3 separate regions of the Homo sapiens genome follow, and regions 2 and 3 are each reported to be linked to region 1. Evidence: microRNA targets listed by miRTarBase, many of them from high-throughput screens and not tested one by one. Region 1 holds a microRNA gene; each other region holds the end of a gene's coding sequence.

Region 1 (4,189 bases):
CTCGAATGCACCACTGGGTGGCGCCCGCGCTCCGCGCGAAGGCCGGGAGGGGCAGTCCTCGAGTGACATCAGGTGGGCAGAGCCGGGAGCCCGGACCGGCCCGTGCAAACTCTCAGGATCTTACCGGGAAGGCACCCTATGCAGGCGCAGGAGTGACACGGAGGTGCCTGGAAGAGGGGCTTCCACTTGAAGCCCCTTTTTGCTCAGTCGGGTCACTGGGCGCCCGCAGTGTCCCAGGGCACGCCTGCGCTAAAACGGGACACCGGCTCATGCTGGCGGCTCCCGGGGCAGCTGAGGGACCGTGGCTAAGGACATTGGGGTCCCAGGGCTACAGGGAAAGAATCGTGACTGTCCACACTTTGTTAAAAGCCCACCTGTTTCCTTCATCAGCCGCTGCTGTCTGGTGTGTATCCAGGTCTCTAGAAGCTTCCAGGGGCACCTTGACCTGCCCCAGCTCCTACCCTTCCTCTCCAGGGCCCTATAAGACAAATTTACACAGGTGTTTCTCTCACCCTGGACCCGATTATTTGGCCCCACCTGCTGCTGAAATTCTGCCGCTGGGTCCAAGGAGGGGCTGCCCCAGCGAGCACTGGCTCCCACCATCTGGGACACATGCCCGTCTCTCTGTGCCTCAGTTTACTTCTCCATGTACTGAGGGACACAAAGATCCGCTCCAAGGCCCTCCCAGGTCACTACCACCTCCTAGAGAGGGGCAGAGTGTGCCCCTGGGCCACTTTCGTGCAGTGAGAGGGCACATCGTGAGGCCCGAATCAAACCCAGGGCTCCTTCCTTTTATTTTTTATTTATTTATTTTTTCAGACAGGGTCTCACTCTGTTGCAGCGGCTGGTGTGCAGTGGCTAGATCATAGCTCACTGCAGCCTTGGCCTGTGAGGCTCAAGCGATCCTCCCACCTCAGCCTCCCAAGTAGTTGGGACTACAGGTGTGCACCACCCACCTTGCTAATTTTTCGTTTTTTGTGGAGACAGATTTGGCCATGTTGCCCAGGCTAGTCTCAAACTCCTGGGCTCAACCATCTGCCTGCCTTGGCCACTCAAAGTGCTGGGATTACAGGTGTCCGTGCCCTGTCCTGGGGTCCCTTCTGAACGAGGCTCCTTTGGTGTGGATTCAGGAGACACAGATGTGGGAGAAGCTGAGATCTTCCAGGAAGGACACAACCCTGGGAGCACGTGCCTGCTGAGACAGCCATGATGTTTGCTTTCAGCCAAAGCTGGAAGATTTAGTTCTGTTGCACACATGGCTGCTGAGCATCTGCTGGGTGCCTGTTCCTGGGCCAGGGCCTCCTGCTCTCCAGAACCTGGAAGGCTGGGAGCAGAATAAGACAGATCTAGAGGCCTCACGTCTTAGGGTGAGGGGTCACCGGCCCCAGCTGGAAGTGGAGGGGAGGGACTTACTAGAGGCCTCCTAGAAAGTGTGACCTCCCAAAAGTTACTAGAATGATTGCTGGTCAAGCACCTGGACCCTTCTGGTCTACGATCACCCTGGTGGAGCTCTGGAGGATGAAGGGCAGCCTGTGGGGAGAGTCCGCTGGGAACAGCATGAGGAAGGGCACCGGAACAGCAGCAGCCAGCTGGCTGGTGACTGGCGAGAGTCTGGGCCAAGGTCTGGCTCACAAGGATTGGGTGTTCCTGTGACTTCCCACAGGGAATGGGGAGCTCTGGAAGGGGGTAGGGTTTAAGCAGGGAGTGGCAGATCCTTGTGCCTGCACTGGCTACCGGGGAGGGTGACGACTGCAGGGAGGTGACCTGAGTCTCTTTGAGAGCTGTGTCCTTCTCAAGGACTTTGTGTACTTTGAATTCCCTAAGAACTAAACATTGCCATTTTGGGTCAACATCGTGATATATATTCTATCATTATACTTTTTATTAGGCTTAGTAACTATTATAATAGCAGTGTTCTCATGGAGCCTCGGAGGATCAAAGCCCTTGCACGGATGTTTTCTCCATGGCCATTGGGATGTCTACTTGTCAGCAGATTGGCAGATATTCGATGACACCCTCACAGTCCCCCAGGGAGTGATGACTTCTGGATGAGGTTGGCACTAGGGCTGCCATCTCAGAACCCAGAGTAGGCCCAGGGGTGGTATCTCCGAAGGAGCCGAGGATTCTCCGTGATGACTTGCAAACTCAGCAGGCTCCAGCTCGGTGGCACTGGGGGAAGGCTCCAGACCCCAGCCTCTGTCATCCCTGCATGGAGCCCACATCTCCAAGGAGGCTGGGAGATCCTGTTTGGGGGTCAATTTAAATGTGAAGGAGCAGAATACAGAGAGTTTGGGAACCCAAGGAGGGGACAAAAGACAGAATCAGGACCCAGTCTTAAATACGCTCAGATTGCTGGGCACCTCCTCATGACAGGCTGGGCCCTGGGTACTGGATGCTAGGATGAATGAGAAATGGCCTCTGCCCTTGAGGGGCTCACAGACACCAGAAAAGACAAACCAGGAGAGTCAGAAAAAGGAAGAGCAAGGTGCTGGGGAACTGAGCCCCGAACCCCATTTCCCACTCTTACTACCCATGCCCCCTGCATGTGACATGGCCAGAATTTGTCCCTGCCTTGTGCCTTTAACTGTGGGGAATCCTGGAATTTTCTAGAAATCCAATTTCACAGAATGAAAGTTTTTCTTTTTCAGAGGTGATCCACTAAAACTTTAACTTAATTTCATTTTATGCTTCTTTAAAATTCGTTGATGTAAATAACTTACAAATCAAAAAAAGCCAAATTTGGTTTTGGAAATTACAGCCTGCACAGTTCACACATATGTGTGCACACATGCACAGGCACACACACAAAAGGTGCTGCCCACCGTGGGAGCTCAGCCTGAACTCGCACATGTGGATACATGTGCTTGGGCTCAGACCCCAAGCAAAGGCCAGAAGAACAGCTGTCGCTCTGTGAGAATTGGCTGGAAGCTGCAGGGAACACCTGTAGGAGCTGTTGGGGAGCCCTCCTGCCTCTGGCCACCTGTGTTGGGGTAGGTCAGGTAAGGAGTGATGGAGAAAGGTGGAGCGATGGTGGACAGGACGGGCGCTTCTCCAAGCATAGCCTGCTGCTTTCTTACTGCTTCCCCTGGGCTCATTTCAAAGGTGCCTGCAGTAGCACAGCCCAGTTGGTCACTGGGTCCCATTTCCCTGGGATGAAGATTTGGGCCCAGCTCAGCTGAGGGAACACGGAGGGTGAGGGAAAGGACATGAAGTGGGACTCAGGATGTGCCAGGCACGTGACATCTGGTCCTTCCACCCCCCCACGGACCTGGGCAGGGTTCCTCACCCGCCTGGGCTCAGAGAGGTCAGGCTGCCAGCCCACAGCTCACAGGGTGGGTGACTGAGGAGGTTGCATTCTGGCTTAGATCTGACATGCCGAAGTGCCATGGCCTGTGCTACCAAGAGGAAGGTTCAGAGGAGCCAGGGCTCTTCCCCTGACCTCACAGGCTACTGCGTCCTCAGACAGCTTGTGTGACAAATGGGTAATATTTCCCATGCATTTGGGAAGAGGGCAAGATCAGCAAGATTTCCCCGAATAGCATCCACCTTGGGGAACCACTCTCTGCCAAAAAAAAAAAAAAAAAAAAAAAAAAAAAAAAAAAAATTGTATTGTATTCTATGCATTTCATGACATGTAAAAGGTTGGGAAGTAAATAAAATATAAGAAGGTTCTACTATGTGCCAAGGCTGCTTCTGTTTTTATTTTTTGGCTCCACTCCTGCCCAAGTGCAGTCACAACACTCAAGGCAGGTGGACTCCTGGGCCCACGGTGTCTGTGTTCTCAGCTCTGAATTAGGCCAGAGTATTCTGCAGCCCCACGTCGAACCACTTGCACAGCAAAAACCAGCCAGCCTCTTAGGCATCTCTTACTGGTGCAGCTTACATGAAACACTTGTCTTTCATTTCAGATGCAGAGTGGAAATAATACTGTAGGAATAAATTCATACTAAAGTGTGAATGGTATACATAGGCCATTTCTTCCTTTGGCAAGTATCTCTTGAGAGCCAGCTGGTTAGGAGTCAGAGACTTGTCCTGGGCCATTCACTCACCTTTTTGCCTTCTGTTGTGAGAATTAAATAAGGAAATGTGGACCAAGAGCCTGGCACAGTAGAACCTTCTTATATTTTACTACCCAATCTTTTTACACATCATGGAATGCATAGAAAATAATAATTTTTTTTTTTTGCAC
Region 2 (4,189 bases), not on the chromosome of region 1:
GGTTATTCTATTTAATCTCCACACCAAGCATGTGAAGGAGGCACCATTGTCATCCCCATCTTACAGATGAGGAAGATGATCAAGGCTTGTAACTTGCCCAAGATCACATGGCTATAGGTGTGGATCCTATATATCCAGATTCAAACTCCAGCTTTAGCCCACTAAGCTACGGTGGCCAACCCCAGCCCAAAGTGTTGGGACCTGCGTGTAGAAGACCCCTTCAGCCCTTGTAAAGTTAGGATCTAGCATGTCTAAGGGGACAGAGACCCAATCCAGGTGACACAGGAGGTAAGATCACAGTGGAACAGGCCATCCCTGCTTTTCCACCACCACCAGCACTGTGACCTCAGACCAGCTCTACTCTATGAGTTTCTTGTGACAGTGATGGCAGCCTGGGGCCAGACAAGGGATGCGTGTCTTGTGTCCTGGACACAAGACAGGCAGGCCCAGAGGGGACAAGCTATATGAAGAGAGGCTTCAGCTGTCGGGGGTCCTGAATGCCATGGAAGGAGAGCAGGTGGGCAGAAGCAGGGAGCCCCTGGAGCAGACAGAGGGGGGATTCCTGCTGAGGCAAGGGGCTCTAGGACTCCAGGGTTTATGCTCCAAAGAACAGAATTTACCAGGACAAAATAAACAAGACCAGTCAGGACCGATGCCCCATCCCTGCTGGGGTCTGGCAAAGCTCTCACCTCCAAATTTGTATCTGTTTTGAATTCAAAGCCAAACAAACACATCAACAGTGAACTCCAACACCTCCCAGAGCAGGGCCTGAAAGGGACCCAGAAAGTCTGGCCAGAAATCTAGAGTCCAAGGGGAGGAGATCTGTAAACTAAACCGCTGGCCATGCTCTGGGGCCCTAAACCACTGCAGGCATCAGGGCTGTTCCAGGAGAGGGCACAGCAAAGGGGGTTGGGAGGGGTCTCCAGTTCCAATCAGAAATGAGGCTGCAGTCACTTCAGGTAGACCTGTCAGCAGCAGCTGTGCAACTGGGCTAGGGAGACAAGGATCGTGGTTTAGCCAGGAGAATCATCTGGGGCCCCAGCCAAGACACAGGTGTTGGATTTCAGCACCGCTCTGCAAATACTCATCTCAGTGACGATGAGGTGAGTGGGAGCTTGGCTGAGCCCAGCCCGGCCTGCCATCCTGGCAAGCCAGGGCAGCATGGAGGTAGCACAGAGTGGCACCCAGCCAGCGTGAATGCATAAGAATCTGCACGTGACACAGAAGAAAGTCTCTTCATGAAGTAGGTTTCACTGGTCCCAGCCAAACCCTGTGGCAGGTGGCCCTTTCTGCACCTGCTGAACATGCCATTCACCTTGACCCAGGTAGTGGCCTCACCCTCCTCTTGCTCAAACTGGAAACCTCAGCATCCTGAAATGCCTCCTCCCCAAATCCATTGCACACATGTGTGCCTGTGTATGCGTGTGTGTGCACGTGTATGAACCCAGCCCCCAGCTGCCCACTCCATTGCCCCTAAACAGGCCCCTCCTTGGTGTCACCTGGCACATCTCCACTGGAAGCCAAATGGATATTTCTAAACTGAAATCTGGTCCCACCTCAGAACCCCTTCCACAGTTCCCTTAAAGTTCCTTTCCTCATTTACATCAGGATCTTCACAATGGGGACCCCTGGTCACCTCCCAACCCAACAAACGCTCCAAATGAGCCGCCACTGCAGAAACTCATTATGGCCCAGGCAGGACAGGCACATCCAAGTATCTGACCAGGCTGTTCCATCTGCCAGGCAGGTCCTGCCCTCTCTCCACCCACCTGTCTAACCCCTGCATCCTCAAGACCCTACTTAGCTATGGCCCTGTGTGAAAGGTCCCTCCCCATGCACCCACAGCCATTTGTTCTCTCTCATGTGGCCCTAACAGGCTGGGGTTCCTGGAGACTCCATGGGGAGCCAGGCATGAAGATGGCATATACCCATGTGTCACTCCCCAGAACGTGAGCTGCCTGCCCTGGCACCATACACAAAGGGACTGACAGCCCCAGAATCCCAAGGGGTGCACCTATGCATATGGGAAAGGCATGTTTACGGGTGAGAATGGTCCATCGTTGGGCTTCAGGAGGCATCTGACCTGACGCACGCCTTTGTCACTTTGTCCTTGTGGCCTGTTGAAATGCCACTCCTGCTTTACAAATTCACCAACTGTTGCATGAGTCATTTCCACCTCAATGAGTACCAGGTCCTTGAGGATGGGGAAAAGTAAGCCACCACTGTGGGGGTCCTGGGCTCCTAGGTGCAGAAGAGGCTCCAGAAACAGGCCAGGTCGTGGGCCATGACCCCACACTAGCCCTCTGGTCCCTCACACGGGTGGATTGGGGGGCTGTGTCACGGGATCTTAGGATCTTCAAGACAAAGACCCAGGACAAGAACACAAGCCCACTCCCATTCTTCACAGGCCTCGAGAAATCTTTGGGCAATGAAGTCAGACTGTGCCAAAGCCCATGTTTCTGTCTCTCCAAGGCCCCTGGCCCCCACTGCCTAGCCTAGGTCAGGTCATGTGGGCAAGCGAGCCCCCACAGCCTCACAGCCCCTACCCCAGGGCCAGGGCAAACTCCTGCCCTGTCCCCCTCCATTCCTGCCCTCCCTCCTTCCACAAACTGCACCAGCTGGGGAGAAATCCTTCAGCCGACAGAATGAGGTGAAAATAGTGCAATTTTAGGCTTTGTAACTGAGATTAGGGCAGGTGGCCACCCATTCTCCCCTTCCTCAGGCCAGCCTCTGACACAATGACCCTGGAAGCCTGGCAGCCCTCCGTAATGGTCAGCATCCTCCCCTGCCATCCCCAACCCACACCATGAGCTCAGCCAGGGCAGGGGCAGCCTCTGTCTCATTCACCACAGAATCCACAGAACCCAGCACAGAGTATGAGCTCAGTAAATTCTCCTCATACATGACTGCACTGACTGGACCGGGCACATGCTACAGGGCAACACCCACGGCTCAGCTGGCCCTGGCTTTGGATCTCAGTCCCACCTCTTCAAGCTGTCCAGCGTGGGGCACATCGGCTACAGCCTTGCCAAATGAAGGCTTGCCAGGATGAAGAGGTGAAGACAGGACAAGCACAGTATGTGGCACACAGGAGGCCTCTGATAACATCAGTCCCCTTCCCTAAAGACCTGGGCAGTCCCTGTCACTGGGGCCTCACATTTCATGTCGAGAATTCACTATTTCTCAGCACTGATTTCAAATAAAGCCACCAAGAGTCTGACGAGGCAACATGGCAGAGTTCTGAGGGTGGAGTGAACAAAAGGTCATTTTTTACAGAAAACTCAGGATCTCCCCTCTGCACAGTGCTAAAGCCCTGTCTCAAAGTTCAGAGCCCGGAAGGTGCAGAGATGTGGCCCTTGGAAATCAAGCCCTTAAGAAAACAGCCCAGCTGTGTAGGGCCGGAAGCCCCAGGCTGCAGTCCTGTGGTCTGGAGGCAGCCAATATTCAGGTGAGAGATGTGCCCAGCTGCCGGTGGGTCCAGGGGGCACGGAGCCCCCACCGTCCCTGGCCCAGGTCTAGGACTAAGTCAGTGGGCCCAGGCCAGCTCCAAGGGCCACAGCTCCTCACTCGGGGGCCGCGCCGGAGCAGCCGCAGCAGCTGGGGCGCCGCAGGGACTGCATGACAGCCCGCAGTGGCCCCCTCCGGCCCTCCACAGACAGGCTGTCCTCGCTGGCGGGCGCCCGCTGCAGCTGCTCAAACTGCATCTCCAGGTGCTTCTGGATGGCCACACCGAGCACCTCCAGGTCCACCGCAGCTCCGTACACCTCCCATGTCATGCCCTCAGCATCCCATCGCACATCCCGCACAGGGGACGGCACCTCCTCCAGGCTGGACCCCAGAGTTACCTCTGGGAACACATGCAGGGCTGCAGGCGCTTCCAGGGACGGACTGGTGGCCACAGCCTTGCAGGCCGCCACTGGGGCCGCCTGCACACCAGCATCCTGGGCTGACAGCGGGGATGCCTCTGCAGGGGCCAAGTCATTGGCTGAGGTCATGGTCCACACATCTTTGGTCCTAGAGCCAGGCTCTGGGACTAACCCAGCGGGACCCCAAAGGTGGGCACAGCAATGGGAATGCCCAGGGAGCCCCCCAGACAACCTACAGTGGATCTTCACCCCATGCTGAGCCTGCAGCCCAGACTCGCTCACTGACGCCACTAGTTTGGGAAAGGCCAGGATCCCTGTGGCAG
Region 3 (4,189 bases), not on the chromosome of region 1:
CCCCAGGCCTCACCTTCCCTGCCCTCTGTCTTTCCCGACTCTCATGGGTGACATGCCTCTGTGGGACACAGGTGTAGCAGGGAGCTGGCTGGGGGTAAGGCAGATTTGGGGGAGACACAAGAATGAGGCAGATGACAGGAGGGGATCAAGCAAGGCTCCCTCATTGGGGAGCCCTGTGTGGGGGAGTGGGGAGGTCTGTGCTGTTCAGCTGGGGTGACAGTTACAAGGCACATGGCACATCAGTGCCAGGAGGCGCCGTGATGTGGGTGTGTGTGGTGCCTGCAGAGGTTTGGGGAACACAGTCAACAGCGTGGGGGTCAGTTCTAAGAAAACAGGTAGACAGAAGTCTGCCCTGGAGATGGGGACACTGGTCTCCTGGGGTTAGAGGTAACTGAGGGCAGGGCCTGCCATATTTGGTACCCAAAGCATCCTGTTCTCTTCTGTTCCTGGCAAAATTAAGACACACCCAACTACCTCTCATCCCCAGGGAAATCCTAACTGCCACTGACTTCCTGTGTGGCCTTTGGTGAGTCCTTGGTCCTCTCTGGGTCTCACTTTCTCCTGTCTAATGGATGTGGAGGGCAGGTGGCTTAAGGAACCCTCAGGGACCCTCTGGGCTGCAAGGACCCTGGCAGGGTGGGAAGGACAGGGAAGGACTGAACATCCAGACTGGGGTGGGGGTCAGGGGACAGGAGGCAGAGGACCAGGGGGGTCAGTTCTGCTAGGGGAGAGACTGGCTGAGGTAGATTGTGTCACAGAAAGAAAAACAAAACAGCTCCAAGGGGATGGACCCCTCCCTCATCTGACTCCTCTATCCCAGTGAAATGAAGGGACAAGCCAGTGGAGCAGGGGGCCTCAGGCCTGGTCCCGAGCTCCTGGGTGGAGAGTCCTTTAAGGGCTGAGACTCTTCTGAGGGTGAGAAGCAGGAGGAGGTGCCTGCAGCCCTCTCCCTGGGCCCTTTGACTGTGGCCATTCCTGTGCCCAGATGTCCCTGCAGGCAGAAGCCCTGAGGGAAGGGTGTGTGGGGTTGAGAAGAGGTGGGGAGTGGGGGTGGAGTAAAATCCAAAAATGTAGCCATGGCTTCCCTGCGAGCCTCAGACCATGCCAAGCCCTGCCAGCACATCCCTGCCCCTTGGGAGTCTCCTGGAGTGTAAAGGACCCCAGCTAGGACTTTTCCTCTAGAAGGCAGCAGCCAGATGGGCCATTCTGGGATACTGGGGAGGAGAATAACTTGCCAAGGGTGACCCTCATGCTACATCTCTGGGCCTCAGTTTCCTCGTCTGTAAGATGGGTTGATAATACCTCTCTTGCAGGGACGTCGTGACCAGAGGAGAGTGTAAGTGAAACGACATGGGGTGAAAATTCCTGGCACAAAGTTGGCCCTGGAGAAACAGTCTGTTTCTGGGTCTGGGTCCGCATCTTCAGAGCTCCCATCTCACAACGGCTTTGTGTGTGAATTCAGCCTCCAAAGATGGATTTGGAGGATGGATGAACCCAACAGAGTGGGCCTGGGTCAGCCTTGGGCTTCTCCCACCTCCCGTCACCCTCGAGGCCTCGTTCCTGAGGGTGCTTAGCAGCAGAAAGAAGGAAAAGCACTCTTGCTGTGTTGGCAGGAGGGATGATGCGTACACCATCTCGGCCTGTGTGCTGGTGGGGAGGGTGACCCGTATCATGGTTGTGCTTGTGCTTGTGTGTATGTGGGCAGTCTGGCCCTCCCTGCCTTTGGGGTTACCCTGCATCCCCAGCAATTCATCATTACCCATCACCTTTTGATGGGCAGCCCAGAGTCTGGGACCTTGAGAGAGTGGCTGCCACTCTGGGCCTCAGTTTCCCATCTGTAACCCAAGAGAGGCTGAACCAGGGAGGGCTAAGCATCCCTCTAATTTGCATAGTCTAGGATTCTCATGGCCCACCTCACTCCAGGATCAGGTTGGCATCTGTCCTTAACATCCGCTGCTGTCCTCTCCCACCAATCACACCTAAGTTGCTGTGGGAGTGTGTGTGTGGGGGGGTGGGGGGTGGGTTGGGTTCCCAGCTCTGCTAGAGGCTCTGTCTCCTCACCCCATGGAACTGCCTACTTCCCCTCTCCCATACGCCCCCTCAATCCAGCACTGGCTGTCCTAGGTGGGAGGAGGGGCCCTGGGTGAGTCCCCTGGGCACTCCAGGATGTTCAGGCCATGGGAATAGACCACAGGTCCTGGGGAGTCATCAGATCTAAGGCAAAACAAGTCAGTTTCCCAGATGCCGCTCCAGGGAGCCCCATTTGCAGAGTGGCTGAGAGCCAGGATTCATGTCACGTCCCCAGAGCTATTTTTTTTTCCAGCTGGGAACCAGTTGGCAGCTGAAATGTCTCAGGGGTTCTGAGGACAATTTCCTTTTAGAAAGATGGCTATGGACCAAGGTAACAGGGGCCTAGAGCTCCCATGAGCCCCAGAAGTCTAGAATGAGAGCACCCATTCCTAGAAAATTCCATTCACGCTGGGCTCTAGAACCTCTTCTCCCCCACCACTGTGACAGGTGCTAGAATCCCCCACAGCAGAGCAGCAGGCCTCCAGTGTCCTCCTCCTCACAACAGAATACACAGATCAGAGTGGCTCCCTGGGACATTTTATCAGCCTAGCACTCTAGAACTCAATCTAGAACTAAGCCTGCTTCTGGATCAGTTCCTCTGATAACTGTGCTAAAACCTCACCTGCACTTGAGCCCAGAGATCTTTCCAGACATCTTATCTGCTGTGTTGAAGACCTGTATCTAGAAGCCACGTTCCAGGTGCACATCTAGAACAAAAAATGGCTCCTTCAAACATTTCACCTGAGGTGTGTGGAACTTCATCCTTCACAGAGCCCACAACACAACAAGAGACGTCTCCTAAGGAGTTCATTCTTGTTCGCTATGCTCTGGATTGCAGGTTCCCCTCCCCCAAGTCTTCCACCCCTCCATGCTTCTGCCAGCCTAGACCCCCCCCCCAGTTCTTTCTCCTATCCATCTCCAGCACTGCCAGCCCCCCACCCCAACACCCTGCCCCACCCCAACTCCCTTCTTCAGCTCCCTCTTGCCCTGGCTCCAGGCCTCAGATGCTACAGGAGCCACGCCATCCCTGTCCACACAATGCTCCAACCTCACCCCATCCCTTCCACGGCCACCTCCATCCTTCTCAGAGATCTTTTCCCACCATAGAGGCAGCCCACTCTCCACAACCCCTGAGGAGCACAGGGTCTAGGTCATGGACCCCAGACAGTGCCCTTTCTCTGGCAAGTCCAGCAGGGGCAACACATGGGCAACGCCAGGCAGGGGAGAGGTGTGGAGGCCCCATGAAAGCAGGGCAGCTCGAAAAGTGTAGCACCAGATGATTCCCCAGGCCCTGGGTCAGGGGAATTTAGGGAATGGGCCACAAGGCTGAAAACGGGGCCCAGGGCTGGGGCCTCCGCAAGGCTGCCCCCTCCCCTGAAAGAACCCAAGAGTGGGGCCACTCTACCCTTGGACCAACAGATCCACTCCCCCTTAGCCTGGTGGCCCTGAAATTCGGGGCACAACACTGCGGCGGATGTGGGATCAGCCAAGCCTGTCCCTTTTGTGCTGGGACACTGTAGCCTACACTGTGGTCTCATACTCCAGCAGCTCCTGGGAAGTCCCCACACTCCGGTACTGCAACCGGGGCGTGGCAGGTGAGGAGTACTCCAGTGCCAGGATGGTCTTCCGGAGCCGGCGGTCAATAAAATGAGCATCCCAGGCCGGGTACTTCTTGCGAGGCAAGTCAATCCGGATGACAGGCCCCTCTGTCCGCAAGGTGCGGGCCACTGGTGTGGGAGGCAAGCCAGGCCGCACCTGGAAGACAGGTGGGGTGGGGGTCCCTGCACGCTCTCCCGCCGAGGCCCCATCCCGCTCAGCACCTGTAGTCCTTGGCAGGGACCTGGGGGGACTCGTGATGGCGTCAGCGGGTGGGCCACAGGGCTCTGAGGCCTTACGGAAGATGCAACCAGGTGCCTGGGGACCCAGCATGGGCCCATTGGGGTGCAGGAGACAGTAGTAGACACACATGAAGAATATGCCCAGCGCAAAGCTGGAGGCCACTACGCAGACCATGATGAGCGAGTAGAAGTCGGTTGAGAAGTTGCGGCTGGAGTACCAGAAGCCGGTGAGCGCGGCGTTCTCCAGCAGGACGATGCAGTGGTAGAGGGTCATGCGGCGG

What was found. Region 1 holds the annotated microRNA hsa-miR-4267 (UCCAGCUCGGUGGCAC, at 2,155-2,170, shown strand). A microRNA usually pairs through its seed, bases 2 to 8, with sites in the 3' UTR of a target mRNA and lowers its output. Matches are read on the target gene's strand: a 7mer-m8 pairs with bases 2 to 8, a 7mer-A1 pairs with bases 2 to 7 and ends in A, and an 8mer does both.
Region 2: miRTarBase lists GPRIN2 as a target of hsa-miR-4267. Seed matches in the 3' UTR shown: 7mer-m8 at 3,541-3,547, 7mer-m8 at 352-358 and 7mer-A1 at 147-153.
Region 3: miRTarBase lists XKR7 as a target of hsa-miR-4267. Seed matches in the 3' UTR shown: 7mer-A1 at 2,319-2,325 and 7mer-m8 at 2,032-2,038.

The regions. Positions count from the first base shown.
Region 1 is chr2:110,067,998-110,072,186 of GRCh38, reverse strand. It overlaps MIR4267 (microRNA 4267), which reads left to right and starts at 2,145; the gene lies at 2,145-2,226.
Region 2 is chr10:46,545,797-46,549,985 of GRCh38, forward strand. It overlaps GPRIN2 (G protein regulated inducer of neurite outgrowth 2), which reads right to left. Exons shown (of 3, transcript NM_001385282.1): 3 at 1-4,189. The coding sequence ends at 3,564. Among named protein-coding and RNA genes, the nearest start is that of GPRIN2, 8.8 kb to the right of the region's middle.
Region 3 is chr20:31,996,860-32,001,048 of GRCh38, reverse strand. It overlaps XKR7 (XK related 7), which reads right to left. Exons shown (of 3, transcript NM_001011718.2): 3 at 1-4,189. The coding sequence ends at 3,592. Among named protein-coding and RNA genes, the nearest start is that of CCM2L, 11 kb to the left of the region's middle.